2 linked regions of the Homo sapiens genome follow. The protein of the gene in region 2 interacts with the protein of the main gene of each other region in a pairwise test. Each region holds a gene or a part of one and is shown on either strand. Other genes may lie near its edges.

Region 1 (15,325 bases), on a different chromosome or scaffold from region 2:
CTGTGGGCTGCTCAGATGCCAGGGTTCCATCACTGCTCTCTGCACCAGCTTGCCCCAGCTTACCTGTCTGTACTTGGGTTTCCAAACGATAAGAGTACAGCCGGGACTGCTCTAGCCTGAGCCAAGGCTGCTGTCCCAAATCCTCATCTGGTCTCCTGCATTCTAGATATAACAGAAACTTCAGGAAACCCTTTTCCCCTTCTCCTTCAGGCCTAAGCAACAACCAGATTTGGCCCAAGGGGCCCATGTTTGTTCTCCCTTTGTCCCTGGCTTCACTGTCCACCAGAGTGAAAACCTCATACGCAGAAAACACCCACAACCCAAGCTGAGGGGAAACAATGGCCCTCCAGGCTCTGCCCTTATTCTCTGCCAAGACTTACACCTCTGGCCTTATGCTGTCACTGTCCGCTGGCCACAGATGCCTCCCAGAGCCCTCCCTGAGAAGACACAGGATGTGAGTGACAGCCCATCAGACACACACCCCCCAGCCTCCAGGAGTCACTCTGAAGCGCCCGCCCAAATGCGGATCTGCCTTACTCGCCTGATGGTCTGTCCTCTTCCTGGGTCAGCACCCAATCCTGAATAATTCACTCCTTCAATCTCTGCAGTCAGGCTCCTGTGCACACCACTCTGCACCGTGCATTCCTGAAGATAACATGAACGGCCTCTTAATCACCACCCCACCTGCCTCTCCTCGGTACTCATGCTTGCATTCACTTCTCTAAAATCTAAACTGGGCCAGGCAGGGTGGCTCATGCCTGTAATCCCAGTGCTTTGGGAGGTCAAGGAGGCTGGATCACTTGAGGTCAGGAGTTTGAGACCAGCCTGGTCAACATGGTGAAACCCCGTCTCTACTAAAAATATAAGCAGTGGCTCACGTCTGTAATCTTAGCATTTTCGGAGGCCTGGGCAGGTGGATCATGAGGTCAAGAGTTCGAGACCAACCTGGCCAACATGGTAAAACCCCATCTCTACTAAAAATACAAAAATCAGCCGGGCGCGGTGGTGGGTGCCTATAATCCCAGCTACTCGGGAGGGTGAGACAGAAGAACTGCTGGAACCTGGGGGACAGAGGTTGCAGTGAACCGAGATCACACCACCGCACTCTAGCCTGAGGGAAAGAGCAAAACTCTGTCTCAAAAAAACTATAAAAATGATACCAGCTACTTGGGAGGCTGAGGCAGGAGAATAGCTTGAACCTGGGAGGCAGAGGCTGCAGTGAGCCAAGATCATGCCACTGCACTCCAGCCTGGGCAACAGAGGGAGACTCTGAGAAAGAGAGAGAGAGAAAGAGAGAGAAAGAGAGGGAGAGAGAGAGAGAGAAAGGAAGGAGGGAGGGAGGGAGAGAGGGAAGGAAGGAAGGGAGAAGGCAGGGAGGAAAGGAGGGGAAGGAGGGGAGGAAGGGAGGGAAGGCAGGCAAGCAGGCAGGCAGGCAGGGTATGGTGGCTCACGCCTCTAATCCCAGAACTTTGAGAGGCCGAGGCAGGTGGATCATCTAAGGTCAGGAGTACGAGACCAGGCTGGCCAACATGGTGAAACCCCATCTCTACTAAAAATACAAAAATTAGTCAGGTGTGGGAGTGTACACCTGTAATCCCAGCTACTCGGGAGGCTGAGGCAGGAGAATTGCTTGAAGCCGGGAGGCAGAGGTTGCAGAGAGCCAAGATCATGCCACTGCACTCCAGGCTGGGCAACAGAATGAGACTCTGTCTCAAAAATAAATAAATAAAGACTGGGGACACTAGCTCACGCCTGTAATCCCAGCACTTTGGGAGGCCACAGCAGATAGATCACCTGTAGTCAGGAGTTCGAGACCAGGCTGGCCAACATGGTGAAACCCCATCTCTACTAAAAATACAAAAATTAGCCAGGTGTGGTGGTGTACACCTATAATCCCAGCTACTCAGGAGGCTGAGGCAGGAGAATCTCTTGAACCTGGGAGGCGGAGGTTGCAGTGAGCCGAGATTGCGCCACTACACTCCAGCCTGGGCGACACAGTGAGACCCCAACTCAAAAAATAAATAAATAAAATTAAAAATAAATAAATAAATAAAAATAAAATCTAAACTGTTGACCACATCTACCTAGAATGCCTCATTCCACATACCTCCGGATCCTCTCTCCTCTCTGTTCTCTGATCAATTCTCTTGCTCCTGGGACCCTCACAACAATGTATGATATACTTTATATGCAACAAGAAAAATGCAATCAACACAATCTGTTCAGACCCACTGCCATATGCATTACTTTAAGTAGCAGTTAAAAAGCCCAAACCTTCTAAGAACACTCAGAAAAAGTCTAGAAAAAGACAAAGTTAATAAACTTTACCAAATGAATCTGCAAATATATATTAACCACTGGTATTAATGGCCTAAAACATTATTTCATTCAAACAAACAGTAATGTCGTAGTTGTTATTAAAGTCAGCAGAAGGGAGGGGAAAGGCTATGTTATGAAGCTATCCCAGTGGTACTTACTCCAATTTAGAAGAAGTTTTAACATGTCAGATTTCATATAAAAAAGCATTTAAGCCAGTATTTATTTTCTATTCAAGGCTCTGAATGTTTAGAAGACATGTATTCGCTGCTTCCTAGGTAAACAAGAGGCGGCTCTCGTACACTTGGGCATGGACTTTTTAAACCCTTGCCAAATGAAAATGTTTTCTACAGGAATCATGAGCTGGTATCAATGGATATTTACAGACAGCTCAGAAGCAAGCTCTGACCTTGCCAACTTAGGGCTTTATAATCAGTCAGGATTATCAAGGTCCCCTTCCAACTAGTCACAAGGCACTAGTAACTGAGGGGCTCAAAAACTCAAAACGACTGTACCCCACCTGTTACTCCCCACCCCCACTGTTCCTTTAATAATTTTAGCCCAGAGTGAGAGGGCCTAAGGAGAAAATGAAATTCAAGTCAGTGTGTTTTACTATTTACTTAGTACTCTGACAAATGCTTGAAATGCATGGCAAAAAAAAAAAAAAAAAGAGTAGGGATTATCCAAGAATTTTAATGATTTGTTATCCTTTTTACTAATTCTGTAAGTAATAAGAAACTAGCATCAATTAGTCAAATCATTTTAAAAGTAAACATAGGCCAGGGGCGATGGCTCACGCCTGTAATCACAGCACTTTGGGAGGCTAAGGTGGGTGGATCATGAGGTCAGGAGACTGAGACCATCCTGGCTAACACAGTTAAACCCCATCTCTACTAAAAATACAAAAAATTAGCTGGGCGTGGTGGCATATGCCTGTAGTCCCAACTACTCAGGAGGCTGAGGCAGGTGAATACCTTGAACCCAGGAGGCAGAGCTTGCAGTGAGCCGAGATCGCACCACTGTACTCCAGGCTGGGCAACAGAGCAAGACTCCGTCTCAAAAAAACAAAAAAGAGTAAACATAATCTGCTTAACAGAAGGGCTTTAGTCCCCCAGATCATACACAACCCTAGTCTTCTGTGAGCCTCTGTCTACCATCGGTTCTCACTGTCCACTGAGAACGGAGTAGAGCCTATCCTTTGCTTGTTGCTGAGGATGGAAAGATGAAGGGGAAACTTGCACCCTGAAGCCACTTAGAATAAAAGGCAGGACTCTTTTCCCAAGGGGAAGGAGGAGCATTGGCCAGAGATGCAGCTGACAAGAGACACAGAGGACAAGCAGCTCTGGTGAAAATCTCAGGCCCTGGGCCCACAATTTGACTATTAATACTCTGTCATCTAGTTTTATCAATACTCAGGGCCAGTTTCCTGCATGTGCCAGGAGCCAGGCATAGAAGGGCCCCAGGGTTGGTTTAAAAACCTATTGCTGGCTGGGCACGGTGGCTCATGCCTGTAATCCCAGCACTTTGGGAGGCCGAGGCGGGCAGAACACCTGAGGTCGGGAGTTCAAGACCAGCCTGACAAACATGGAGAAACCCCATCTCTACTAAAAATACAAAATTAGCCGGGCCAGTTGTGGTGCATGCCTGTAATTCCAGCTACTCAGGAGGCTGAGGCAGGAGAATCACTTGAACCCAGGAGGTGGAGGTTGTGGTGAGCTGAGATCACGCCATTGCATTGCAGCCTGGGCAACAAGACTGAAACTCTATCTCAAAAAAAAAAAAAAAAACAAACAAACCTATTGCTGACCAGGTGAGGTAGCTCAGCCCATAATCCTAGCACTCTGGGAGGCTGAGGTGGGAGGATCACTTGAGGTCAGGAGCTCAAGACCAGCCTGGCCAACATGGTGAAACCCCATCTCTACTAAAAATACAAAAATTAGCCAGGCATGGTGGCGGGTGCCTAGTAATCCCAGCTACTCAGGAGGCTGAGGCATGAGAATCGCTTGAACCCAGGAAGTGGAGGTTGCAGTGAGCCGAGAGTACACCACTGCACTCCAGCCTGGGTGACAGGGCAAGACTCTGTCTAATAAACAAAAAGAAAAACCTGTTGCCATCTTGATATTTTTTATAATTTTTGGGACAGATGCAGTGGCTCACGCCTGTAATCCTAGCACTTTGGGAGGCTGAGGCGGGTGAACTGCCTGAGCTCAGGAGTTCAAGACCGTCCTGGGCAACCTGGTGAAACCCTGTCGCTACTAAAAGTACAAAAAATTAACCAGGCTTGCTGGTGCATGTCTGTAATCCCAGCTACTCGGGAAGCTGAGGCACGAGAATTGCTTCCACCCTGAAGGCGGAGGTTGCAGTGAGCTGAGATCATACCTCTGCACTCTAGCCTGGGCAATACAGCAAGACTCTGTCTCAAAAAAAAAAAAAAGAAAGAAAGAAAAAGAAAAACATTTTTAATAATTTTTGAACAAGGGGCCCCACAGTTTGTTTTGCATTGGCCCCTTGGATTATGTAGCTAGTCCTGTCAATCTTCATCATTAACTACATCTGAAATATGCAAAACTCAGTGAGACTAGAGTCTGCATTTCAGATGGAATTCATTATACCCTTTAAAAGCCACTTAATAGACAACCTTATACAAATCATTCTGAAGTTTCACATTTCTTCAATTTAAATTTATGACATTCAACTATTTTGAAGTGGTCCTCAAAAGTACTATATAAGAAACATGTTGGCTGGGCGCGGTGGCTCGCACCTGTAATCCCAGCACTTTGGGAGGCCAAGGCGGGAGGATCACAAGGTGAGGAGATCGAGACCATCCTGGCTAACACGATGAAACCCTGTCTCTACTAAAAATACAAAAAAAAATTAGCCGGGCGCAGTGGCAGGCACCTGTAGTTCCAGCTACTCAGGAGGCTGAGGCAGGAGAATGGCATGAACCTGGGAGAAGGAGCTTGCAGTGAGCCAAGATCACGCCATTGCACACCAGCCTGGGTGACAGAGCGAGACACTGTCTCAAAAAAAAAAAGAAAGAAAAATGTTAGGCTGAGCATGGTGGCTCATGCTTGTAATCCTAGCACTTTGGGAGGCTGAGGCAGGGAGATTGCTTGAGTCCAGGAGTTTGAGACCAATCTGGGCAATATGGTAAAACCCCATCTCTACCAAAAAAAAAAAAAAAAAAGCCAGGCATGGTGGTGTGTGTCTGTAGTTCCAGCTATTCAGGGGGCTGAAATGGGCAGATCGCTTGAACCTTGGGAGGACGGAGATTGCAGTGAGCTGAGATCGTGCCACTGCACTCCAGCTTGAATAAAAATTTCTTTGCTATACTTTAAGTATGTAAACAAAGAAGATATTCATTTTTACTGAGTTTTAAAATTCACTTTGAATCTAAAGACATATTTCTAAGCATTTTATATGTTTGAAGATTGGGTAATTGAGGAATAGTTAAATAAAATCAAAGGACTAGAAAAAATAATTTACTTTTTAACAAAGCACATTTTTAGCCAACTAGCATAACAAAAATGTAATGAATGAAGAAATGTCAGCTGGACATGGTGGCTCACGCCTATAATCGCAGCACTTTGGAGGGCCAAAAAGGGCAGAATGCTTGAGCCCAAAAGTTCGAGACCAGCCTGGGCAACATAGGAAGATCCCGTCTCTACAAAAATTTTAAAATTAGCCAGGCATGGCGGTGTGCACACCTACTCAGGAGGCTGAGGTGGAAGGATAGTTTAAGCCAAGGGAGGTTGAGGCTGCAGTGAGCTGTGATTGTGCCACTGCACTCCAGCCTGGGCAACAGAGCAAGATCCTGTCTCAAAAAAAAAAAAAGAAAAATGTCACTTTTCTAAACTAGTTGTAGTTTGAAAATTCTCGTGTTTTTTCCAGTCCCTTTCATTAAGTTAAGCCCTGCTCCTGGAACCAGGATATTGACTCTGCATGTGTCTGGGTGGCTGTCCCCCAAACACTGCATGTGTAGCCCTGTGCTAGGCTCAGATTTCCTAAGAAATCTACAGAAATCAAGGCCTAGGCCTCAGTGCTCTCAGTCTCTCTTAATGTGTGAGGTGGTAAAAACAACAGACTGTAGGCTTGGATGCCTGCAAAAATACAAAGGCGTGATAAAATTTAGTCCTCAGGAAAGCTGACCAAAGGCTCAATGTTTTTAAGAAAAGGGTTGCTCTGTGAGCTACCAAGAGCCCCACAGCAGCAGAGTTCAAACAGAGGCTGAATGATCAACACACAAGAACATATGAGGAAATGTCTGTTTTACAGGGAAGGCTATTTAAAGTATAGAGGAAAGAACTTTCAAAGTTCCTTTCAACTCAAAGTCTAAAGTCCAGAGTAGAAATTATATGAGAGACAATGGCAAAGGAAGGAATTGGTTGGATGAAATGCCGGTTTGCACCTAGACTAGGAAAAATTCAACTTAAAATTCTAACAAACTAGAAAACTGTGAAATGTGTATTTGATTCGAAAAATGCTCCTGTGAGTGACTATGGAGGTCAAGTGGATACAGGATGGTGCAGCCACTTTGTACAACCAACTGGTAGTTCCTCAAAATGTTAAAAACACAGGCCGGGCATAGTGCTCACGCCTGTAATCCCGGCACTTTGGAAGGCCAAAGCAGCTGGATCACTTGAGGTCAGGAGTTGGAGACCAGCCTGGCCAACATGGTGAAACCCCGTCTCTACTAAAAATACAAAAATCAGCCGGGCATGGTGGCAGGCACCTGTAATCCCAGCTACTCGGGAGGCTGAGGCAGGAGAATCTCTTGAACCCAGGAGGCGGAGGCTGCAGTGAGCCAAGATAACATCACTGCACTCCAGCCTGGGTGACAGAGTGAGACTCTACCTCAAAAAAAAATTTTTTTAATTTAAAAAGTTAAATCTAAGAGTTACCCTAAGACCCAACAATTCCACTTGGGTATACACCCAAGAGAAATGAAAACATATGTCCACACAAATTCCTGTACAAAAATGTTCATAGTAATATTTTCCAAAATTAGCTACAAAGTGGAAATAACCCAAATGTCCATCAGTGAATAAATGGATAAACAGAATGTGTTATATCCCTACAAGGATATATTATTTACCTATGAAAAGAAACGAAGTCCTGATACATGCTACAACATGGATGAACCTTGAAGACATCATATTAAGCAAAAGAAGCTAGTCACAAAAGGCCACGTATGATTCCATTGATGTGAAATGTCCAAAATAAGCAAATCCATAGACAGAAAATAGACTAGGGGTTGCCAAGGGAGGAGGAGAGGAGGAGGGAGATGGAGAATGATTGCTAACAGATATGGGATTTCTTTTGGGAGTGATGAAAGTGTTCTGAAATTAGATAGTGGTGATGGTTGTGCAACTTTGTAAATATACTAAAATCACTGAATTGTATGCCTTAAAAGGTTGAATTTTATGGTATGTGAACTATACCTCAATAAAGCTGCTTTAAAAAAAAAAAAAAAAAGGAGTGGATGCAGAAAAAGGTGGGTTTTTTTGTTTGTTTGTTTGAGACAAAGTCTTGCTCTGTCACCCAGGCTGGAGTGCAGTGGCATGACAAAAGTGGTCTTTTTTTTTGAGATGGAGTTTTGCTCTTGTTGCCCAGGCTGGAGTGCAATGGTGTGATCTCGACTCACTGCAACCTCCGCCCCCTGGGTTCAAGCAATTCTCCTGCCTCAGCCTCCCAAGTAGCTGGGATTACAGGCATGTGCCACCACGCCCAGCTAATTTTGTATTTTTTAGTAGAGATGGGGTTTCTCCACATTGGTCAGGCTGGTCTCTTTCTCCCAACCTCAGATGATCCGCCCACCTCGGCCTCCCGAAGTGCTAGGATTACAGACGTGAGCCACCGCACCCAGCCGGTGGTCCTCCTTTGTCCTACACAATGACTCAGAGAAAGTACAGATCAAGGTAGGCTTGAAAAGTAGCAGACTCAACAGAAGTTCTTGTCATGGGAGAATCAGACAGAACGAAACAGATGGCTGAAAGATGATTCTTCGGCCAGGTGCGGTAGCTCATACCTATAATCTCGGCTCTTTGAGAGGATGAGGTGGGAGGACTGATTGAGTCCAGGAGTTCGAGACCAGCCTGAGCAACACAGTGAGACGCCACTTCTATTAATTCTTTTTAAGATAATGATTCATGTCTGACCAAAGAAGTAAAAAAGAAAAAACATGACTCTTCTTTTGATATGCTATCACATACTTCTTATTGGGGTTCCGGAATGGGAAGGAAGCTTTCAGATTTTTTTCTTTTTTTGAGACGGAGTTTTGCTCTTGTTGCCCAGGCTGGAGTGCAATGGCACCATCTCGGCTCACCGCAACCTCCACCTCCTGGGTTCAAGCAATTCTCCTGCCTCAGCCTCCCGAGTAGCTGGGATTACAGGCATGCGCCACCACACCCGGCTAATTTTATATTTTTTAGTAGAGATGGGGTTTCTCCATGTTGGTCAGGCTGGTCCCGAACTCCTGACCTAAGGTGATCCGCCTGCCTCGGCCTCCCAAAGTGCTGGGATTACAGTTGTGAGCCACTGCACCCAGCCAACTTTCAGATGTTTTATAGGCATTTAAGCTGCTTTAAACTCTGCTACTTTGAAGTACGTGAATCTCTGCCAAGAATCTTTAAAAATAAAAACTTTAGTAACAGATCTTGTGAAAATTTTTAATCTAATAATAATATCCTAAAGCTAAATCAAAAAATGAGCAAAAATATACCTAAAACATAGGAGAGAAAGAACCTATCAAATCAGGGACAACTGAAAGCAGCATTCTAGTTCCCGGGTGGTGGCAGCTCTTAGGGAAAAGACGGGTATTGTATGTCAGGCTGACACAGTGGGGAGGCTGTCGCCATTTAAGGGTTCCTATATATGGCCTTTGCATAGCCTCAAAATGTCACTTTTGAGGGTCTGTTAGTTTGGCTTTTTTTTTTTTTTTTTTTTAGAGACAGAGTCTTGCTCTGTCGCTCAGGCTGGAATGCAAGTGGTGTGACCTTGGCTCACTGCAGCCTCAACCTGCCAGGCTCAATCAGTTCTCCAGCCTCAGCCTCCTGAGTAGCTGGGACTACAGGCATATGCCACCATGCCCAGCTAATTGTTTTGTATTTTTAGTAGAGATGGGGTTTCACCATGTTGCACAGGCTGGTCTCGAACTCCTGGACTCAAGCAGTTCACCCATCTTGGCCTCCCAAAGCACTGGGATTACAGGTGTCAGCTACCATGCCTGGCCGTTTGGGTTTTTTTTTGTTTTTGTTTTTGTTTTTTCCTGAGACTGAGTCTCACTCTGTCGCCAGGCTGGAGTGCGGCGGTGTGATCTCGGCTCACTACAACCTCCGCCTCCCGAGTTCAAGCAATTCTCTTGCCTCAGCCTCCCAAGTAGCTGGGACTACAGATGCATGCCACCATGCCCAGCTAATTTTTGTATTTTTAGTAGAGACAGGGTTTCATCATGTTGGCCAGGATGGTCTCCATCTCTTGACCTCATGATCCACCCACCTTGGCCTCCCAAAGTGCTGGGATTACAGGCATGAGCCACCGCGCCAGGCCTTGGTTGTTTTTTAATGCACGAACATGACATTGCATAAATAATTTCCACCAATCTTGAATCTGTAGTCCTGAAACACTACTAAAATCCGTATTTTGTAGCAAATCAACATTTTAAATTTCACTTATAAAGACATATTTCTTCAAGCAACTCTTTTTTTTTTTTTTTTTTTTTTTTTTTGAGACGGAGTCTCACTCTGTCGCCCAGGCTGGAGTGCAGTGGCGCGATCTCGGCTCACTGCAAGCTCCACCTCCCGGGTTCACGCCATTCTCCTGCCTCAGCCTCCCGAATAGCTGGGACTACAGGCACCTGCCACCACGCCTGGCTAATTTTTTGTATTTTTTTTTAGTAGAGACAGATGGGGTTTCACCGTGTTAGCCAGGATGGTCTTGATCTCCTGACCTCGTGATCCACCCACATTGGCCTCCCAAAATGCTGGGATTACAGGTGTGAGCCACCGCACCCGGCCCCTTCAAGCAAGTCTTCACACCAAATTAAGACCCACTAAAAAAACAAGTTTTAATGATCTAAGCCCTCAACCAGAATACATAAGAAATAGACTCTTGGCGGTTTTTTAGGATAATCAGATCTCTATTTTGTTTCAACTCTTATAAATGAAAACTACCCAAAAAAATTAAAAAACATACTTTCCTGTCTCAGAAAGCAATAATAAAAATAACTCAGTACTTTTTTTCCTTTGTTCTAAAATTTTAACCTATCTCAGCTTCCTCATTTTAAACATTTAGACTTGGTTTAATAAGCTTCACTAAGTCCTGCAGCTAGTGTTACGAAATTACAGCATTTTCTATTTTCAATGTAATATTTTATATCCCACAAAAATTTCATTTTTTGGTCATATTCTTCATAACTAAAACTGAAATATTATTTGCGTTTTTGGCTTGAATATCAAATACTGGCACAGATAATGTATGTTATGACCTCCTAAACCTTCCTTTTGAAAAATAATTCCTATAAAACTGCTTGGTTTCATGCTTTTTCTCCCAAAAGAAATATCCAGCCAAAGGACGAATTCCAGCTAACTGAAGGTTCCAGTTAACCGAGTGAATGCTCTAAAATTGGAATATATTCAAAATTGTTCGTATTTTATTATTTCTTCAGCAGTTATAGGTCTCCTTTGAGAAATAAATGTTATTTACTTTCAGTATTAAAAATGTTAGACTATGGGTAATACTGAGGTCTATATTCGAACGACTTTTTTCCACATCGTTACTTCTGAAAAAACGAGGTAACAAATTAAGAAACCATCTTCCCAAAAAAGCTGAAAATTATAGTATTTTTAAAGGGACTAACAGGGGTAGCCACAGAGCTACAGCCTTCAAAGGCTGAGACAGAGTTTCATGATCTAATATCCCCAATACTGCAACCAACAGAATTGATCCTTGAACTTTTTTTTTTTTTTTGGTATTTTTGTAGTGACAAGGTTTCACCATGTTGCCCAGGCTAGTCTCAAACTCCTGGGCTCAAACAATCTGCCTGCCTAGTTCTCCCAAAGTGCTGGAATTACAGGGGTGAGCCACCGAGGCTGGCCCCATGATCCTTGAAAATTTACCCACTAATGAATTCCCATATCGACACTGCAGAATTTAAGTTTGGGCCGGGTGCAGTGGCTCACACCTGTAATCTCAGCACTGTGGGAGGCAGAGGCAGGCGGATCACTTGAGGTCAGAAGTTCAGACCAGCCTGGCCAACATGGTGAAACCCTGTCTCTACTAAAAATACAAAAATGAGCCCAGTGTGATGGCATATGCCTGTAGTCCCAGCTACTGGTGAGGCTGAGGCAGAAGAATCTCTTGAACCCGGGAGGCGGAGGTTGCAGTGAGACAAGATCGCGCCATTGCACTCCAGCCTGGGTGACAGAATGAGACTCTGTCACAAAAACAAAAACAAACAAAAAAAAAACTTAAGTTTGCTTTACACTATGTAATTTTTTTCAGTATATAGCATTTATCTGTAAAGTGAAAATTAGGATGCAAAGCTACTACGCTGTCTAAACTGAAATGCTGTTATCCATCCACCCATTCATTCATTCAATCACACAATACTGGCATGCCTCTGGTGTGCTGGTGACGGGAAACATATGCAAAGCAGATACCCTTCCATCTTGGGGCATATGTTCTACTGAGGGGAAACAGACGATAAACAATTCAATAAGTAAACAACAAGGCATGTTAGAATGGGCTAAGTGCTATGCAAAAAGAAAAAGTGTTGCAGGGAAACAGGATTTAGGGGTTCAGGAAGAGAAATTATTTCAAATAGGATGGTGAGGGGAGGTCTCACTAAGCCTATGTGCAAATGGAAAAGTAACAGTGAATTTTATGTATTAAGTGGCTTCGAAATGCATTACATGGTTGCATTTTTTAAATATTCATATAAGCTTTCTATTTTCTCTGCTTCACTGTTCTATTTCCCGATCTCCATGAAGAAGGCAGGTAGCTGAAGGACATGACCGTCCAGGGCATGCCAAAGATATTTCTTCTAATATTTTGGCTTACTGAATTTGTTTTTAAGATGGAGTCTTGCTTTGTCACCCAGGCTGGAGTGCAGTGGCGCAATCTCGGCTCACTGCAACCTCCGCCTCCTGGGTTCAAGCAATTCTCCTGCCTCAGCCTCCCAAGTAGCTGGAGTTACAGGCGTCCACCAGTACACCCAGCTAATTTTTATATAGTTAGCAGAGATGGGGTTTCACCATGTTGGCCAGGCTGGTCTCGAACTCCTGACCTCAGGTGATCCGCTGGCCTCGGCCTCCCAAAGTGCTGGGATTACAGGCGCAAGCCACTGCACCCAGCTCTACTCAATGTTTTTTGAGAACTACAGCTATAATTAAAATAAAATTTGAGGGTCTCTACAAAACTAAGAGTCAAGATGCAATTTATATTAGAAAATCTATCATTTTCTGCAGCAGTCTGTACGTAATCTAACATTAACAATGATTAAAGGTAGCTACAGCATGAACAGGAGTTCATGTCGTACTGCCTTACAGCCGTAAAAAATTCAATTAGTTGAAATGATCTCTTAAAACGAGCCCACAGAGTGTCTCCAAACTGTAAATTTACATATGAAATTCACTTGTAATATTTCAAAATGAAATTGTTTATTAGCATTTCGTGTAATTCCAAGACATTTTCTAACTTGCAACCTGAAAAAAATGCATACGAATAACTGATGTGTAAAATGTCTTTATTCCGAAGACTAAGAATCTTGAACTACTGTAACTGCACCAAGAAAAACTTAGAGAAAGCAAATTACAAATGACTCAACTAGCCAACACACCTTTCACACAAGATTTCTGTCGGTCTCAGGTAATGAAGATATTCAAAGTTGAAATGTATGCTGTTTAAGTAACCAAGGCAATTAAATAATGACTAACAAATGTAGGTGCTATTTAAGAAAGCACCAATTTTAACAAGAAATGGTATCACTGACTAAATATACTTAAACTGTTCCCAAAATACCCAATCCAAGCACATATTTTTAAAATGTGTGGGTTTTCCCCAAGAGAAGCAAAACTTTTGACATTTCTCTTGGATATATTAGAGTTTCAGACCTCCAACCCACATCTGGAAAGAACATTTCAAACTTAGCTTGATGTTACTTTTAAAAATCAAATGGCCAGCAATGAGATACTTAGTGACTAAGATCTGAATTTGACAGAGTCAACAGAATGTTAGAAATGAAATAAAAGAAGTATTCAAAGTTTATCATCCTCGATGTTTAGAAAGGAACATGGAACAAAAGATGCATTTGCCGCCTCTGCCCTTTAATTCGTGAACACCATACTTCTCTCCTTATGTCACGCCAGGGAAGGGAAAATAAGAATTTTTAAAAAGCTTGCTAAATTCAAATATGACCATTTCATCTAGATTTCTATCAATCCTCCTCCCCAAAATTTCTTTTGATTAAAAAAAAATCAGAACAACAGATTTAAGCCTACAGTAGATTCTACAGACTACACCTAGATTACTCTGCTCTAAGGCCAAGGAAAATGTTTACGATTTCAAGATCCACTCAGAAGCAAATACTGTATCTGCAATGCGTAAGCTTTTCGTTGGCAAGACCAGTCAATAGCAGAGGCATGCAAGGTTTAAAAGGTTAAGTGGATGAAGGTTAAAAGCTAATAATAAATTAGCCAAGAAATACTACTTCCCACCGAGCCATAAAATAATTTCGGTCCTACAATCCTAAAAAACCAGAGAGGTTTCTCGTTTTTGTAGAGAACATCTAACCCTCCACGGTCTAAATGACCGTCAGAAAAACAGCACCAAGGCACCAGGGGTAGCAGAGACGGAGATTTCTAACACTGGGTGAGCCCGCGGTCGCAAATCTCATCGCGATTTCACCTTTGGGTGAAAAGGTGGGAGGGAAGCACTAAGTTTCAGCCTCGGCTCCACTGGAAACAGACAACGTCTGAAGGACTCTGGGAGGAGGCGGAAAGGGGCGAAGTCGTGGTGTCCGCGGTGCAGCAACACAGAATCGGGATCTTGGAAACGGGATGCGGAGGAGTGGGCTCTTATGTAAGCACACACCAAAACTGTGCGTGCACCCCCCGCCTGATGCACATCTGAGCACACGTACACAGAGCATCTCACCCAGGGGTGCAGCCCCAGCCTGCGTGCGCCGCTGAGCAGGGCGGACTGACCCTTCGGCCCGTCTGCACGTTCCCCCAAATCAGCGCAGCCACCACCATGGGCTGCAGTGGGGGCAGCCCAGGCTCAGGAGCCCCGCCCGGGACGGAGCCTGGCTTCCCCGGGACGCCTGCAGCGCGCGCCCACAGTCTCCTGCGCCCTGGCCCCGGCTCCGCGAGCCCGACCCCCAACCCGAACCCCACGCCCTGACCCGGCTCCCTGCGCTCGGACCCGACTCCCCGCATCCCGGCTCGAATCCCGGCATCCGGCCCTACTCCCGCACCCGGACCCGAATCCCCGCACCGGGACCCGAATCCTGCACCCGGACCCGAATCCCGCACCGACCCAGCGGCCCGGCCCAGCCCCGGGGCTTACCTCGCGCGGCCCAGACCCCGCCGCCGCACAGCAGCCCGGCCAGCAGCAGCCGGGCGGCCGGGGCCAGCGCGGGAGCGGGGCGGCGCAGCATCGCCAGCCCGGGGCGGGAGCGGCAGGGAGGCGCGCGGGACGCCGAGCGGAGCTCTCGGAGCTCTCGGGGCTCTAGGGGCCTGGGGCTAGCTGCTCCGCGGCGCGGGGAGCTCCGGGGGTCCAAGGAGGAGCCGCCGCCGCCGCCGCCGTGACGCTGGGCCGCGCGCTCAGGACGCGGCGCCCTCCCCGCCTCAGAGCAGCGTCTTGCTGAAGGCAGCGGCAGCAACTAAGATGGCGGCGGCGCTCTCTCTCGGGTCCGGCGAGGGTACCCGGCCGGGGGCGGGGTGGCGGCGGGAGGGGCGGGGATGGGGAGCGACGCGAGGCGCGCGCGCGGCGGACCCTGGGAGCGCGCGGG
Region 2 (15,325 bases):
CGTTTTGAGAGTCTCACTCTGTTGCCCAGGGATGCCCTATCTGGGCTCACTGCAACCTCTGCCTCCCAGGTTCAAGCAATTCTCGTGCCTCAGTCTCCTGAGTAGCTGGGATTACAGGCGCGCACCATTACGCCCGGCTGATTTTTTGTATTTTTAGTAGAGGCGAGGTTTCAACATGTTGCCCAGGCTGGACTCGAACTCCTACCTCAAGTAATCCCCCTGCCTCGGCTTCCCAAAGTACTAGGATTACAGGCATGAGCCACCACACCCAGCTGGTATTCACTATTTTGAATATCACCCTTGATTTTCTAATACCTTCAGAATGTATTGTTTTAGGAGTTAAGATTCTAAGATTGCATGGATCTTTCTCCACATGTATAATAGTATCCTAACATAGTAAGGTTTGACAGTTTAGGGTTGGGCTTTCTAAGATTCTCGAGTTCTACATTTACAGTGTTTGAGATTCTAAGGTGCACCTGTGGTTCTAGGATAAGCCCATGGCTCTAAGATGATACATGGTTCTCAAGGATTCCATGGTTCTGAAACGATCTCTGGGCTCTAAGGTGATCCCAAGATTCTAGCATGAGCACATGCCTCTGAGGTGACCCCGTGGCTCTACAATGATCCCGTATCTCTAAGATAATTCATGGTTCTAAAGTGATCACTTGATTCTCAGGTAATCCCACGGCTCTAAGATGATCCTTGGTTCTAGGATGATCCTCTGGTTCTAAGATGATCTGTGTTTCTAAGGTGATCCTATGGCTCTAAGATGATCCATAGTTCTAGGATGATCCCATGGTTCTAAGGGGATCCCGTGGCTCTAAAATGATCAAGGGCTCTGAGATGATCCATGGCTCTAAGGTGATCACATGATTCTCAGATAATTCCATGGCTCTAAGATGATCCATGGTTCTAGGATAATCCCCTGGCTCTAAGATGATCCCTGGGTCTAAGGTGATCACATGATTCTTAGGTAATCCCATGGCTCTAAGATGAACCACGGATCTAGGATGATCCCCTGGCTCTAAGATGATCCATGGCTCTAAGATGATCACACGATTCTCAGATAATCCCATGGTTCTAGGCTGATCCCCTGGCTCTAAGATGATCCCTGCTTTTAAGGTGATTGCATGATTCTCAGGTAATCCCGTGGCTCTAAGATGATCCATGGATCTAGGATGATCCCCTGGCTCTAAGATGATCCATGGTTCTAAAGTAATCGCATGATTCTCAGGTAATCCCATGGCTCTAAGATGATCCATGGTTGTAGGATGATCCCCTGGCTCTGAGGTGATCCATGGTTCTAAGCCTGTAGGATCCCAAGACCCCTGGAGTGTCTGGGTAGCCCTGGATAGAGGAGGGGATACAGGAGGGACATGCAGGGTGTCTGCCCAGCAGAAAGCCTGGCTTTACCTGTTGTGGCAGGTGGTGGCCCTGGTGCTGGCGCTCCAGCACTGGCAAAAGATGAACTGATCTGTGTGCACAGAGCGTTGATGCTGTCACTGTCGCCGGCACCAGGAGGCTCCATCTCAGGCACTGGGAAGCAGGGCAGGACAGAGGTCAGCAAACAGGCCCAGACCCTGCCGCAGCCCCGCCCTCTACCCCCCGCCCTCGGTGGCCCTCTCTTCTGACCTGGATCCTTTCCCACTGTAGTAACTAAGTGGCCATGACCGCCAAATAACTGTGCATATGTGTGTGTCACATCTGAGCGGCAGAACGACTGAGTTAGTGTGTGACATTTGACGGCTGACAGTAACAGGGACCCCAAACCAAGGACCTCAAGATTTGTGTGTGGCCACAAACCAGAAGAGTTGTCTAAAACACTTAGCAACATATATTAGTTTAAAAATATGCCCAACCACGTGCATGGCAAGGACATGGGCCCAGTCTGAATGGGCTGTGGCATGGCCGCTCACTGGCTGGGGATCATTTGTCCAGCTTTGGGCAGAGAAGTGGGGTCCTGTCCACCCCACCCAGGCTGATCTATGGCAAACATCATGAGAGCAGAGATACACCTGTGCCAGCAAGGCAGGAGACACTGAGCAGGCATGGCGGCCCCGTGAGGGCTTGTGATGAGCAAAGGTACCATCCAAATAAACAATTAAGGACTCCCATGTGTGGTGTGTGACACATGTCTGTGATGTTTTAGCCAATGGCTGTCTCCAAGGGACCATGTAGATGCTCCAGTGAACATCAGAACTGGCCGTAGGAGTCTGCAGGTGTGCTGCGGGGGCGCCCGGGTGGGACAGCCAATGTCGACAATGATTGTGCATGTTCGTCCAAACAGGAATGCAGCTTCTGAGAGTGTGACTGGGGTCCGGGTGTGTGGCGTCCTGATGCGTGACTCCCAGGTGTGAGTGCATCTGCCGTGTGATGTATGAGTGTGTTTGCAGGTGTGCATGGATCTGCACATGTGGCTTTGGAGTTTGCATAAATCTGGGTGTGTGGTCTGTGAAGGTGTGTAAATCTGAGTGTGTTTCTTTTTTAAAAATATTTATTTATTTATTTTTGACACAGGGTCTCGCTCTGTTGCCCAGGCTGGAGTGTAGTGGCACAATCTTAGTTCACTGCAACCTCCGCCTCCCAGGCTCAAGCAATCTTCCTGAGTAGCTGGGACTACAGGTGCATGCCACTGCACCTGGTTAACAATAAAGGTTAATTTTTAAAATTTTTTTGTGGAGATGAGATCTTGCTGTGGTGCCCAGGCTGGTCTCAAACTCCTGAGCTCAAGTGATCCTCCTGCCTCAGCCTCCCAAAGTGCTGGGATTACAGGTGTGAGCCACCACGTCTGGCCATGTGTGACTTCTGACTCTGTGATTTTGGAGTGTGTGTGACTTGAGAGTATACCTGACTGTGAGTTTGTGACTTCTGAGCATGTGTGACATGTGTGTGGGGGGGTGCAATGTCTATGTGAGTATGTGAAATTTCTGTGTGGCAAGTCACATCCAAATAAGCGTGCAGCTGGCCACAGGAGTGTGAGGCTTCCAAATAAAGCCTGGAGCTCCTGCCACCTCTCAGGAGCACGTGTGACAGCCTGGGGAGTGTGCCTGATGTCAGGCTGCGTTAAGGACAGCAAATGTGAGGGTGTGTGATGGCCCAGGAATGCTGCAGGCATGGAGGGAGCGTGCGTCACTCTCAACAAGGGTTGGCATCTGCTCACCGGTTACCTTTTGGAGCAGCCCAGCCTCCTGGATACAGCTCAACACCCTCCCACATCAATCCCCGAGGACATAACGGGTAGGCGATGCAGATTTGGCATCCAGGAGCAAGAGAGTGGGCCAGACCACATGGGTTCACTGGCTGCTGGTGGGGAAGACAGCCCTTCTGCCTGCCTCCCTCAGGCAAAAACTCAGTAGCGTGCCACCTCTATCTTCCTTCCCTATGGCAGAGATTGCTCTTAATTTTTTTTTTTTTGAGACAGGTTCTCACTCTGTTGCCCAGGCTGGAGTGAAGTGGCGCAATCTTAGCTCACTGCAGCTGGGCTGAAGCAATTCTCCTTCCTCAGCCTCCTGAGTAGCTGAGACTACAGGCATGCGCCACCACACCAGGCTAGTTTTTGTATTTTTTTGTAGAGACAGGGTTTAGCCAAGTGATCTGCCTCAAGGGATCCTTGAGCCCCTCTTGGGCTCAAGTGATCTGCCTGCCTTGGCCTCCCAAAGTGCTGAGACCACAGGCATGAGCCACTGCACTTGGCTAGACATCACTTTTAGATCATGATGTACACCACCTGTCTCCTTTCCCTGGCCCATGGCAGACATTAGTAATCAAACACAATGCTTTTTTCCCCCACGGAGCTCTTTGCTCACCTTACCCGTCACCTGTCCAGACCTCATGGCTCCCCTGGCCAAGTGCTAGAAGAAACAGATCCTTGTAACTCCATCTTCCCTCCAAGTAAAACAGGACCTTTATATCTCCTCTCTCTTACCACCAGCCATGGCAGACAATGCCAATCAATTATGATGTGCTGCTCCTTTTCGTGATGGGTACTGCCTCTGCTCAACTCTGTGCCTACAACAAATGTTCCTGATCCATCACTATGCCCCTGACCCCTGGGATCTCTGAGCTCACTGGTGCCCTGCATGTCATGTTTCTACTGACCAAATTCTGGGAGTCTCCCCTTTGGGTAAAAACATAACACTCTTGCTACTCTTTCTTCTCCCTTGCCCATGACACACACTGCATGGAGATCATGACTGCTAACCGATCATGATGTGTGCCATCTTTCTCGTTTCCCTTAACCACAGCAGACATTGCTAATTGATCATGACTTGTGATGCCTTTTTTGCCATCCCTTGATGCTCCCTGCCCTAGGCAGACATTTCTAATCCATCACAATCCTCCTTTCCTCAGAGCCTGAGGAATACCTGTATCCTTCACCTAGCCAGATCTCATAGGTGAATGCTTGGAGGGAGGGAGCATTAACCTGTAGTGCTTCAGTCTACTCCTGAGCAAAAACAGGCCAATGGTGTTGCTTCTCTTCTTTCCCTGGCCCATGGCAAACTTCCTTATCCATGCCCGACTTCTTTGTCCATAGCCGACTTTGCTAACTAATCATGATGTGTGTCATCTTTCTCCTTTTCCTTAACCACACCAGACATTGCTAACTGATCATAACTTGTGATGCCTTTCTACTATCCCTTACTCAGAGCAGACACGGCTTATCAATCCTGATTTGTGCTATCTCTTTCCTCTCCCTTGCCCACTGCTAATCGATCATGACATGTTCCCACTCTCTCTCCTTTGCCCATGGCAGACAGTGCAAATCAATCACAGTGTGAACCATCTCGCCTCCATCCCTTGCCCACATCAGATAGTGCCAATTGATTCCAACGCCGTTTCCCACTGGGCCCAGGGCTCACCTGTGCCCTTCACCTGGAAGTCAGTGCGGCGCTGCAGCGTGGATGGCAGCTCATTCAGCCGTAGGCTCAGCTGCCGTTTGAAAGGCGAGTTCTTCTGGCTGAGTGCTGGGAACCCACGGAAGGAGCCCTGGCGAACCAGCTGCTCCAGGGGTGCATGGCGCCGGGGGATGGCGGCCGCAGTGGTGCCTGCAGCCACAGGGGTGCCTGCCTCACCCTTCTCACCAGGGGATGTGGTGGCTGGTGTCGGGGACACGTGCCCAGGCTGGGCAGGGCCAGGAGCCACAGTGGGGGCAGCTGCTGCCTCTGCTGGAGACATGGGGGAGATGGATGGTTAGATATCTCACCATGGCATGCAAGGCCTCTCCCACCTGGTTCTCTTGATCATTCTCCAAGGCTGCCTTCCTTGCCCAGTGAGTCCTGCCCTTAAGACAAGCTAGTCAAAGCCCTGAGATATCCCTCACCCCCACCCAAGTCATGATCCCCTTCCCCAGGAGGCTCTTGGAAAACCGTCCCCCAGGCTCACCCTCTGTGTCTCTCCAGCTTCCTGCCCCTTTCTGTCTTGCCCTGCTGCTCTCACCATTCTTCCCTCTAAGACCCTCTATCTCCCTTTTTGATCACTTAACAAACACTGATTTGGTGCTGGAACAACGTATCAGGCATTGTTCCAGATGCTTTTCAAGTATTCACTCATTCAATCCACACGACTACCCATGGGGTTGATATGATTCTCATTTTACAGATGTGGAAACTGAGACCCAGCAAAGGCCCAGTGTGATGTGCCCAAGTCCTACTGCTAGGAAGGGGCAGGCTGACTCTGGACCCCATGCTCCAAATGACTGCCCGCCCTGTCTCCCTCTGACCTGTCTCTCCATATCATGTTGTCTTTCTCTGTCACTGTCTGTTCCCCTCTGTCTCCCACCTCCCAGCCTTCTTCCCACCTCAAGTAGCTCCTCCCTTCCTCCAGTCATTCTAGACATGGCTTGGATGCTTCATCCTCTGAGAAGCTTTCCAGATTGTTCCAGGCTCTCAGCCTGGCTCCCTCCACTCTGAGACTGTTCTCTGTACTCTGGGAGGAAACCTGACCTCCCCACTCAGCAGGAGAGGCAGGCTCTTCAAGGGCAGGGCTGCCCTCACCCCTGCCAAACCACAAACACACATCTACCCTCCTACCAGGGCCTCCCCGAGCTGCAGCCTGAATGCCATGGAGATTAAACTCAGGCCCAGAGAGACCCTCCCATAAGGATGTCGCCCAGTGCTGCTTCTCCCATCGTGACACAATGGGGCACCCATGCAGGCCTGGCCCAAGGCAGTGGAAACAGCCCAGGACAGGTTGGAACCAGGAAACCTCCTCTGCCTCCACTCACTGTGTGACCTCAGGAAGTCCCCTCCCCTCTCTGGGCTCCAGTTTGCCAACTAGAAACCTGGGATAAACATCTCAGTGCTACCTCCCAAGCCTCTGAGAGGGTCAGTTTAGGTAGTGAATGTTAAATGTTTTGGAATCCAACAAAAGCATGCCTGGACACAGTGGTTCACGCCTGTAATCCCAGCACTTTGAGAGGCCAAGGTGGGGGGATCAGTTGAAGCCAGGAGTTCAAGACCAGCCTTGCCAACATGGTGAAACACCATCTCTACTAAAAATACAAAAAAAGATTAGCTGGGTGTGGTGGCACACGCCTGGGATTCCAGCTACTCTGGAGGCTGAGGCAGGAGAATCGCTTGAACCCGGGAGGCAGAGGTTGCAGTGAGCCGAGATCGCACCATTGCACTCCAGCCTGGGCAACAGAGCAAGACTCTGTCTCAAAAAAAAAAAAAAAAAAAAAAAAAAAACTTAGCTGGACGTGGTGGCGGGCACCTGTAATCCCAGCTACTCAGGAGGCTGAGGCACATAAATGTCTTGAAACCAGGAGGCAGAGGTTGCAGTGAGCTGAGATGGCACTACTGCATTCCAGCCTGGGTGACGGAGAGAGACTCTGTCTCAAAAAAAAGATGTTCTTTTTTTTCCCCTTACAATCCAGGATCTAATTCAGGATCACATCTCGCATCTATTAATACCTGTTAAACCTCATTAGTCTCCCTTAATCAGGATCAGTTCCCAATGGTAAATTCTTTGTAAATTCTAAGTAGTGTTTTCCCAAAGAACTTAAATTCACAGTAAAATAAATAAATAAATTAATTAATTAATAAATAAATTAATTATATGGTGACTCAGGACATACATACAATTATATTTTAAACACACACACACACACACACACACACACACACACACACAGAGTTTTAGAACTTACAAAGTATTTAACCATTTACCTAGAAAGTTAGTTTTACCAAGTATGTTTCAAACTTTCTTGATGGCAATCCAGAGTTAAGAGATATCTTTTATATGGTAGCCTCTTACACACGCGTGCACACACACACACACTCTCTCTCTCAAATAAAAGTATCATTAAATTATATTTAACCCTTATGCCATTCAATATACTCTGATATTTTCTATGATTCTCTATTTCATTGTTTTTAAATTAATTTTTTTTTTTTTGAGACAGGGTCTCACTCTGTCTGTCACCCAGGTTGGAGTGTGGTGGTGCAATCGCAGCTCTCTGCAGCCTCTACCTCCTGGGCCCAGGTGATCCTCCTGCCTCAGCCTCCTGAGGAGCTGGGACCACAGGTTGCACCACCACGCCTGGCTAATTTTTTAATGATTTGTAGAGACAGGGTTTCCCTATGTTGCCCAGGTTGATTTCATTTTTTTAAATGTCAGCCACATGGGCTGGGCCCAGTTGTCCACACCTATAATACCAGTGCTTTGGGAGGCTGAGGTGGGAGGATCGTTTGAGGCCAGGAGTTTGAGACCAGCCTGGGAAACACAGCAAGATCCCAGTTCTACAAAATATAAAAATAAAATTAGCCAGATGCTGTGGCTTGTGCCTATATTCCCAGCTACATGGAGGCTGAGGCAGGAGGATTACTTGAGCCCAGCAGTTTGAGGCTGCAGGGAGCTGTGATCGCACCACTGCACTCCAGCCTGGGCAACAGAATTAGACCTCAACTCAGACAACAAAACAAAACAAAAAATGCCAGCCACAGTACAGCAAATTGGCTTCCCAGGTCTTAATACACAGGTTGAAAAGCCCTGAGAAGGCCAGGCGCGGTGGCTCACCTGAGGTCAGGAGTTGAGGCCAACATGGTGAAACCCCATCTCTACTAAAAATACAAAAATTAGCCATGCCTGTAATCCTAACTACTCGGGAGGCTGAGGCAGAATTGCTTGAACCCGGGAGGTGGAGGTTGCAGTGAGCCTAGATCACACCATTGCACTCCAGCCTGGTTGACAGAGCGAGACTCCGTCTCAAAAAAAAAAAAAAACAAACAAAAAAAGAAAAGCCTCGAAAAGCCCCGAATTGGTGGATAGTAAACCACTTGGTGCGCCCTTAGAATATTGCCCAGAGAACTCTTTCCATGGAAGTTGCTTTATTTATTTATTTATTTTTTGAGACAGAGTCTCACTCTATTGCCCAGGCTGGAGTGCAGTGGCGTGATCTCGGCTCACTGCAACCTCTGCCTCCAGGGTTCCAGCGATCCTCCTGCCTCAGCCTCCCAAGTAGTTGGGATTACAGGCGTAGGCCACCATGCCCAGTTAATTTTTGTATTTTAGTAGAGACGAGGTTTTACCATGTCGCGCAGGCTGGTCTCAAACTTCTGACCTCAAGCGATCCGCCCATCTCGGCCTCTCAAAGTGCTGGGATTACAGGTGTGAACCATGGCGCTTGGCCTGAAGCATCCCCTACTTTGTAAACTGTTGAGTCTCTGCACCTCTGCAGCTCCCTGCCCCCTGATACTGGGTACCCTGTGCCCACTCTGTGCTCTGCTGGCGCTTGGGGCAACACCCACCTTTCTTCTTGTCCGGGGCCTCTCGCTCAGCAGGCCGCCCACCCCCAGACAGGCGGAAGGAGCCCTCGCGGGCGAAGCTGGTGCGGCTGGCATCGAAGGCGGCCGTGACCCCACATTCCTTCTCCCGTCGCTGTTTTCGCTCCAGGCAGGCGGCAAAAGCACAGCCCACAGCGTGGCTCAGCCTCTCGCCCTATGGGGAGAGGATGGGCGGGGGGGTTAGAGGCGCTGGGCAGTGCGGACAGGGGCCAGGGGCACTGGGTTATAGCCGCTAGGTACTGGGTTGCCCCGGATGAGTCTCTGCACTTCTCTGGGCCTCAGTGCTCATCTGCACCACAAGGAAGGGCTGGAAATGACAGCTCCAAGTGAGAGAAGCCAGAAACCAATGAGCCTGTTGTGTGGCTCCACTTACTGGAAATTCCAGAAGAGGCAAAACTAATCTATGGTTCTATGGTGAAAAAAAGTCAGAACAGGCCAGGAGTGGTGGCTCTCGCCTGTAATCCTAGCACTTTGGGAGGCTGAGGCGGGAGGTTCCCTTGAGCCCAGGAGGTCAAGGCTGCAAGCAGCTATGATGGGGCAACTGCACTCCAGCTTGGGTGACAGAGTGAGATTCTGTCTAAAAAAAAGTCAGAATAGTGGTAGTTTCCTATGGGGTGGGGAATGACTGGAAAGTGTATGAGGGGATGACCGGGTGGTGGCAATGTTCTAGATATTGATAGGGGTTTCGTTACATGGGTGTATGCAGTTGTCGAAATTCGTTGACTGTACACCAAAGGCTTGTGCATTGCTATAGACTAAACGTGTGTGTCTCTCTCAGTTCTAACGCTGAAGCCCTCATCCACAATGTGCTGGTATTTGGAGGTGGGCCTTTGAGAGACAATAAAAGTTATGTTAGATCATGAGGTGGGGTCCTCATGATGGAATTAATGCCCTTATTTATTTATTTTTTTTCTGGGACAGGGTCTTACTCTGATGCTATGCTGGAGTGCAGCGGCATGACCTCAGCTCACTGCAACCTCCACCTCCCGGCTTCAAGCGATTCTCCTGCCTCAGCCTCTCAAGTAGCTGGGATTATAGGCATGCGCCACCACACCTGGTTAATTTGTGTATTTTTAGTAGAGATGGGATTTCATGATGTTGGTGAGGCTGGACTCGAACTCCTGACCTCGAGTGATCTGCCCACCTGGGCCTCCCAAAGTGTTGGGGTTACAGGCGTGAGCCACCATGCCCGGCCGGGATTAATGCCCTTAAAAAGGAAAAAGAGACAAGAGATCTCCCCTCCACCTTGAGAGGTGAAGATACAGAAAGCAGGCATCCATCTGCAAACCAGGAAAAGAGCCCTCACCAAGAAATGAGCCATTTGACACCCTGACCTCAGGTATCCAGCCTCTAGAACTGCGGCAAACAAATGTTTGTCATTTAAGCCACACAGTCTACACTATCTGGTTATAGCAGCCTGAACTAAGACAATCATATCTTTCGCTTTGAAGAAAAAAAAAATCTGGAAACAAATACGAATTCTACTTAATGGTGTGCATGCTGAAGTAGTCCAATGCCTACAAATTTGACATACAAAAAGAATCAGACGGTGTGACTGCAGTCGCTCACACCTGTAATCCCAGGAGGCCGAGGCAGGCAAATCACTTGAGGCCAGGAGTTCGAGACCAGCCTGGCCAACATGGTGAAACCCCATCTCTACTAAAAATACAAAAATCTGCCAGGTGTGGTGGCGTGCACCTGTAATCCCAGCTACTAGGGAGGCTGTGGCAGGAGAATCACTTGAAGGTTGGAGGCGGAGGTTTCAGTGAGCCAAGATCGTGCCACTGTACTCCAGCCTGGGGCAACAGAGCGAGACTCCGTCTCAAAAAAAGGAATGAACCACTGATACAAGCAGCTCACGCCTGTAATCCGAGCACTTTGGGAGGCCAAGGTGACTGGATCGCTTGAGTCCAGGAGTTCGAGACCAGCCTGGGCAACATGGCGAAATCCCATCTCTACAAAAAATTAGCCAGGCATGGTGGCGTGTGCCTGTAGTCCTAGCTACTCAGGAAGCTGAGGTGGGAGAATCGCTTGAACCCAGGTTGCAGTGAGGCGAGATTGCACCACTGCACACCAGCCTTGATGACAGAGAGAGACGCTGTGTCATTAAATAAATTAATTAAAAACATTGCCGGGCAGGGTGGCTCACACCTATAATCCCAGCACTTTGGGAGGCAGAGGCAGGCGGATCACCTGAGGTCGGGAGTTCAAGACCAACCTGACCTGCATGGAGAAACCCCATCTCTACTAAAAATATAAAATTAGCCAGCTGTGATGGTGCATGTCTGTAATCCCAGCTACTTGGGAGACTGAGACAGGAGAATTGCTTGAACCCGGGAGGCAGAGGTTGCAGTGAGCTGAGATTGCTCCATTGCACTCCAGCCTGGGTAACAAGAGCGAAACTCTGTTTCAAAAACAAACAAAAACACAACATTACACTAAGTAAAGAAGCCAGACACATATTATATGATTCCATTAAATGAAATATCCAGAATAGGTAAATCCACAGAGAGACAAAGCAGATTAGTGGTTGCCAGGGGGCTGGGGTAGTGGGGAGACGGGGTGAATTGATGAATGGAGATGGGGTCTCCTTTAGCGGTGATGAAAATGTTTCAGGACTGCTAAAGTCAATGGTTAAACAACACTGAAAATGTATTAAATGCCATTGAATTGTACACTTTTAAATGATTAATTTTATGTGAATTTCACCTCAAGAAAAAAAAAAAGTTGAACTTGGGGAATTCTACTGCTTAATGGTTAAAACTTCCTTCAGAAGTAGGAAGGAATTCATCCAACATCACATTCTTTACCCACAGGAGATGGTCCTGCTCTTTTCTGGCTTTCATTCTCATCCCCAAATAGTTTTTTTTTTTTGTTTTCTTGAGACAGAGTCTCGCTCTGTCACCCAGGCTGGAGTGCAGTGGTGCAGTCTTGGCTCACTGCAACCTCCGTCTCCAGGGTTCATGTGATTCTCCCCACATGTGATTCTCCTACCTCAGCCTCTGGAGTAGCTGGGATCACAGGCGCCTGCCACCATGCCTGTCTACTTTTTTTGTATTTTTAGTAGAGATGGGGTTTTACCAGGTTGGCCAGGCTGGTCTCAAATTCCTGACCTCAGGTGATCTGCCTGCCTTGGCCTCCCAAAGTGTTGGGATTACAGGCGTGAGCCACCACGCCTGGCCAATACTCTTTTTTTTTTGAGATGGAGTCTCACTCTGTCTCCCAGGCTGGAGTGCAGTGGTGCAATTTTGGCTCACTGCAACCTCCACCTCCCGGGCTCAAGTGATTCTCCTGCCTCAGCCTCCCAAGTAGCTGGGACTACAGGTGTGCACCACCACACCTAGCTAATTTTTTGTATTTCAGTAGAGATGGGGTTTTACCATGTTGTCCAGGGTGGTCTTGAACTCCTGAGCTCAGGCAATCCCCCCGCCCCAGCATCCCAAAGTGCTGGGATTACAGGTGTGAGCCACTGCACCCGGCCCTCACGTGAATACTCTAAATTGGGAACCGTGAGTATACTTTCTTCTCCAGATGAGGAAACTGGGCACACAGAGGTTAGTGATGTGCCTGAATGCAGGAAGCTTGTAGGGGTGGGGCTGGGATGCCAGGGCATGGGAGGGAAGAGTTGGCCAGCTGTGGCAATACTCACGGAGTCCTTCAGTGCCAGAAAACAGTGGCAGATCCAGCGGCGGGTAGTCCCGTCACGACAGATATAGGAGAAAGCCTTGTCCAGGTTGCGGTCAGGAGCACAAAAGGAGACCTTTTCGATGGTCTGGTCGACCAGAAGATCCTAGGAGGGGCCGGGGAGGCCAGGAGAAGAGTGTGAACTCTCTTTCAAGTGTTCACTCAACATTCTCTCTGTGTCTGCTGAAATCCAGTCCTGAACAGGGTGGGGACCCAGCAGTCACTGAGACACCCTGTGCCTTGCCTGCAGAGGGCTCCCAGGTCAGCGGGAAGATCAGACCCATCACGAGATGGGCAGCCCAGAGTCATAGCCAGGATGTGATGAAGGAGGCCCAGGCAGAGGGGTCAGGGCCAGGACCATGGAGGCACAGGCAGAGGGGTCAGGGCCAGCATGGCAGAAGCCAGCTTGGGGTCAGTCAGGCAAGGCTTCCTGGAGCAGGTACTAACTAAGAAAAAAAGTCAAGGAACAGTATTTTGGGCTGAGGGAACTGCCTTGCAAAGGTGGTGATCTTGTTCTGTTATTAACCCAACTCTCAGCATGTCCTGGGCACCTCCTAGGGCAGTCTCTGGGCTGGGGGCAGCAGATTCAAGGTGAGCAAACAGATACCTAGATTGTGGCCTCATAGTGCTTCCTTCTGACTGGGCAGGGTGACAATAAACACTTAATGGCTAACATTCATTGATCTGAGCAGTTACGATGTACTAGACCCCATTTAAATATATATATATATTTTTTTCCCAGAAGGAGTCTTGCTCTGTCACCCAGGCTAGAGTGCAGTGGCATGATCTTGGCTTACTGAAACCTCTGCCTCCTGGGTTCAAGTGATTCTCCTACCTAAGCCTCCCAAGTAGCTGGGATTACAGGCACGCACCACCACGTCTGGCTAATTTTTGTATTTTTAGTAGAGGTGGGGTTTCACCATCTTGGCCAGGCTAGTCTCGAACTCGTGACCTCAGGTGATCCAACTGCCCTGGCCTCCCAAAGTGCTGGGATTACAGGCGTGAGCCACCGTGCCCAGCCCACATTTAAATTTTTTTAAAAATTATTTTGTATAGATGGAGCCTTGCTATGTTTCACAGGCTGATCTTGAACTCCTGGCTTCAAGGGGCCCTCCCAGCCAGGCACCATTTCAAATAACTTGCATATGCTTTCTCACTTAATGGTAGGGTCTATTATAATCCCTGTTTTTCTGCGATGGAGTTTAGCTCTTGTTGCCCAGGCTGGAGTGCAATGGCATGATCTCCGCTCACCGCAACCTCCAAGTCTCGGGTTCAAGAGATTCTCCTGCCTCAGCCTCCCAAGTAGCTAGGATTACAGGTACACACCACCATGTCCAGCTAATTTTTGTATTTTTAGTGAGATGAGGTTTCACCATATTGCCAGGCTGGTCTCGAACTCCTGACCTCAGGTAATCTACCCTCCTTGGCCTCCCAAAGTACTGGGATTACAGGCGTGAGCCACCACTCCCGGCCTATAATCTGCATTTTTCAGATGACACAACTGAGACTCAGAGAGGTTAAATCTCATGCCCAGGGTCCCTAAGCTGGGATCGGAGCTGAGGCAGCTGCTCCAGTCTCTCTCACCCACAGCCTATGCCAGTTCCCAAATAATCACAGCATTTATTCCTGAGTTATGACGACAGAGGGAGCACACGGCATCGTCTAGAAGGTCCCTGAGGGAGGGATGTGCAGAGGAGGCGGGAAGGTGTCCTCCGCCCTGATTCCAGCAGGGTGAGCAGACAGGCCCCCTGGCGTCCACCCCCACAGGCCTCCTACCTTGGTTTTGTCGTCCACCACTCGGAGCCCATCGGCTGACACCCACAGGACAGACTTCACGGACTTTCGGCCCATCTGGAGGGAGGCAAGGGGACAAAGGAGCCGGGTCAGGGTGCCTCTCCCTGTCTGACCTTGCCCCCTCCCTCATGGCAGCCCCCTCACTCACCGCCTTCAGCTTCTTCACCGCATCTTCACACACGTGCATTCCCCGGGACTCCTCTACCTCCACGTGACCCAGGTACTTGGGTTGGAGGGAATGGGGGGGGGGACATGAAACAGCACAGTAATCACTCATTCTCAGTGTCCACTGAGCATCTGCCATGCAGTAGACAATATTTTAAGCACATGATGTGTATGCAATCATTTATTCTGCATCTCAACTCTACAAGGTGGAGACCCCATTCCTGGTCTAGACATGCAGATGGGGAAACTGAAGCACAGCACGTAGTAGTGATTCCAGTCTAGCTATACCCCTGGGCCCTAACCCGGCACCGTGGTCCTCCCGAGAGCTAGTATTTGCATCTCTGTGCGTGAGGACTGGCCACAGGCCATGCAAAGCTGCTTTGCCTACCCTAAAGCAGCTAGAAAGAGCCTGGGCCAGTCCCCACAATGACTGAAGGGAGTTAGGGTACCTGAGCCCCAGCTCCCTCATCTGCAGGTGGGATGACTGTTGCCTCGAGTTTCCCAGGGGAAAGCTCAGTTGCACACTGCTGCAGTTTTAATAACACACCCTTTACTGGCTGCCTTACTTTCCTCACTCCCAACACCATTTCCTGCACCTCCCAAATGAAGCCGTCACATTCAAAGTCTGCTTCCAGGGAAGGGAACGTAAGGTGGTGGAGGGGCTGTGACCATGGTCAGTCATCACCCAGCCAGGAAGGGGCTGAGCTCCACAGTCCACGCCGTGAATCCTGCTCTCCCCCTCACAGGAATGTAAAAGCGTAGGGTATGGCTAAACCAGAACGTCCTTATCGGTAGAGCGCTTTGCAAATGCTACACCACATGACGGCTTCCAGGTAATAGTTTGCTGGTACAAAAAAATGTGTTCTGGTTTTTTGTTTGTTTTCAAGATTGGGTATCAC

The links.
Region 1: the proteins of NUMBL (region 2) and CLSTN1 interact in binary tests that used the Homo sapiens proteins (3 or more experiments, as listed by UniProt).

Annotation. Positions count from the first base shown.
Region 1 is NC_000001.11:9,808,763-9,824,087, forward strand, and holds the start of CLSTN1 (calsyntenin-1 isoform 1 precursor), read right to left. Parts: upstream 15,204-15,325; 5' UTR 14,972-15,203; coding exon 14,881-14,971; intron 1-14,880. UniProt on the Homo sapiens protein: Postsynaptic adhesion molecule that binds to presynaptic neurexins to mediate both excitatory and inhibitory synapse formation.
Region 2 is NC_000019.10:40,668,485-40,683,809, forward strand, and holds part of NUMBL (numb-like protein), read right to left. Parts: intron 14,485-15,325; coding exon 14,410-14,484; intron 14,319-14,409; coding exon 14,244-14,318; intron 12,574-14,243; coding exon 12,433-12,573; intron 8,938-12,432; coding exon 8,748-8,937; intron 5,166-8,747; coding exon 4,860-5,165; intron 1,537-4,859; coding exon 1,414-1,536; intron 1-1,413. UniProt on the Homo sapiens protein: Plays a role in the process of neurogenesis. Required throughout embryonic neurogenesis to maintain neural progenitor cells, also called radial glial cells (RGCs), by allowing their daughter cells to choose progenitor over neuronal cell fate.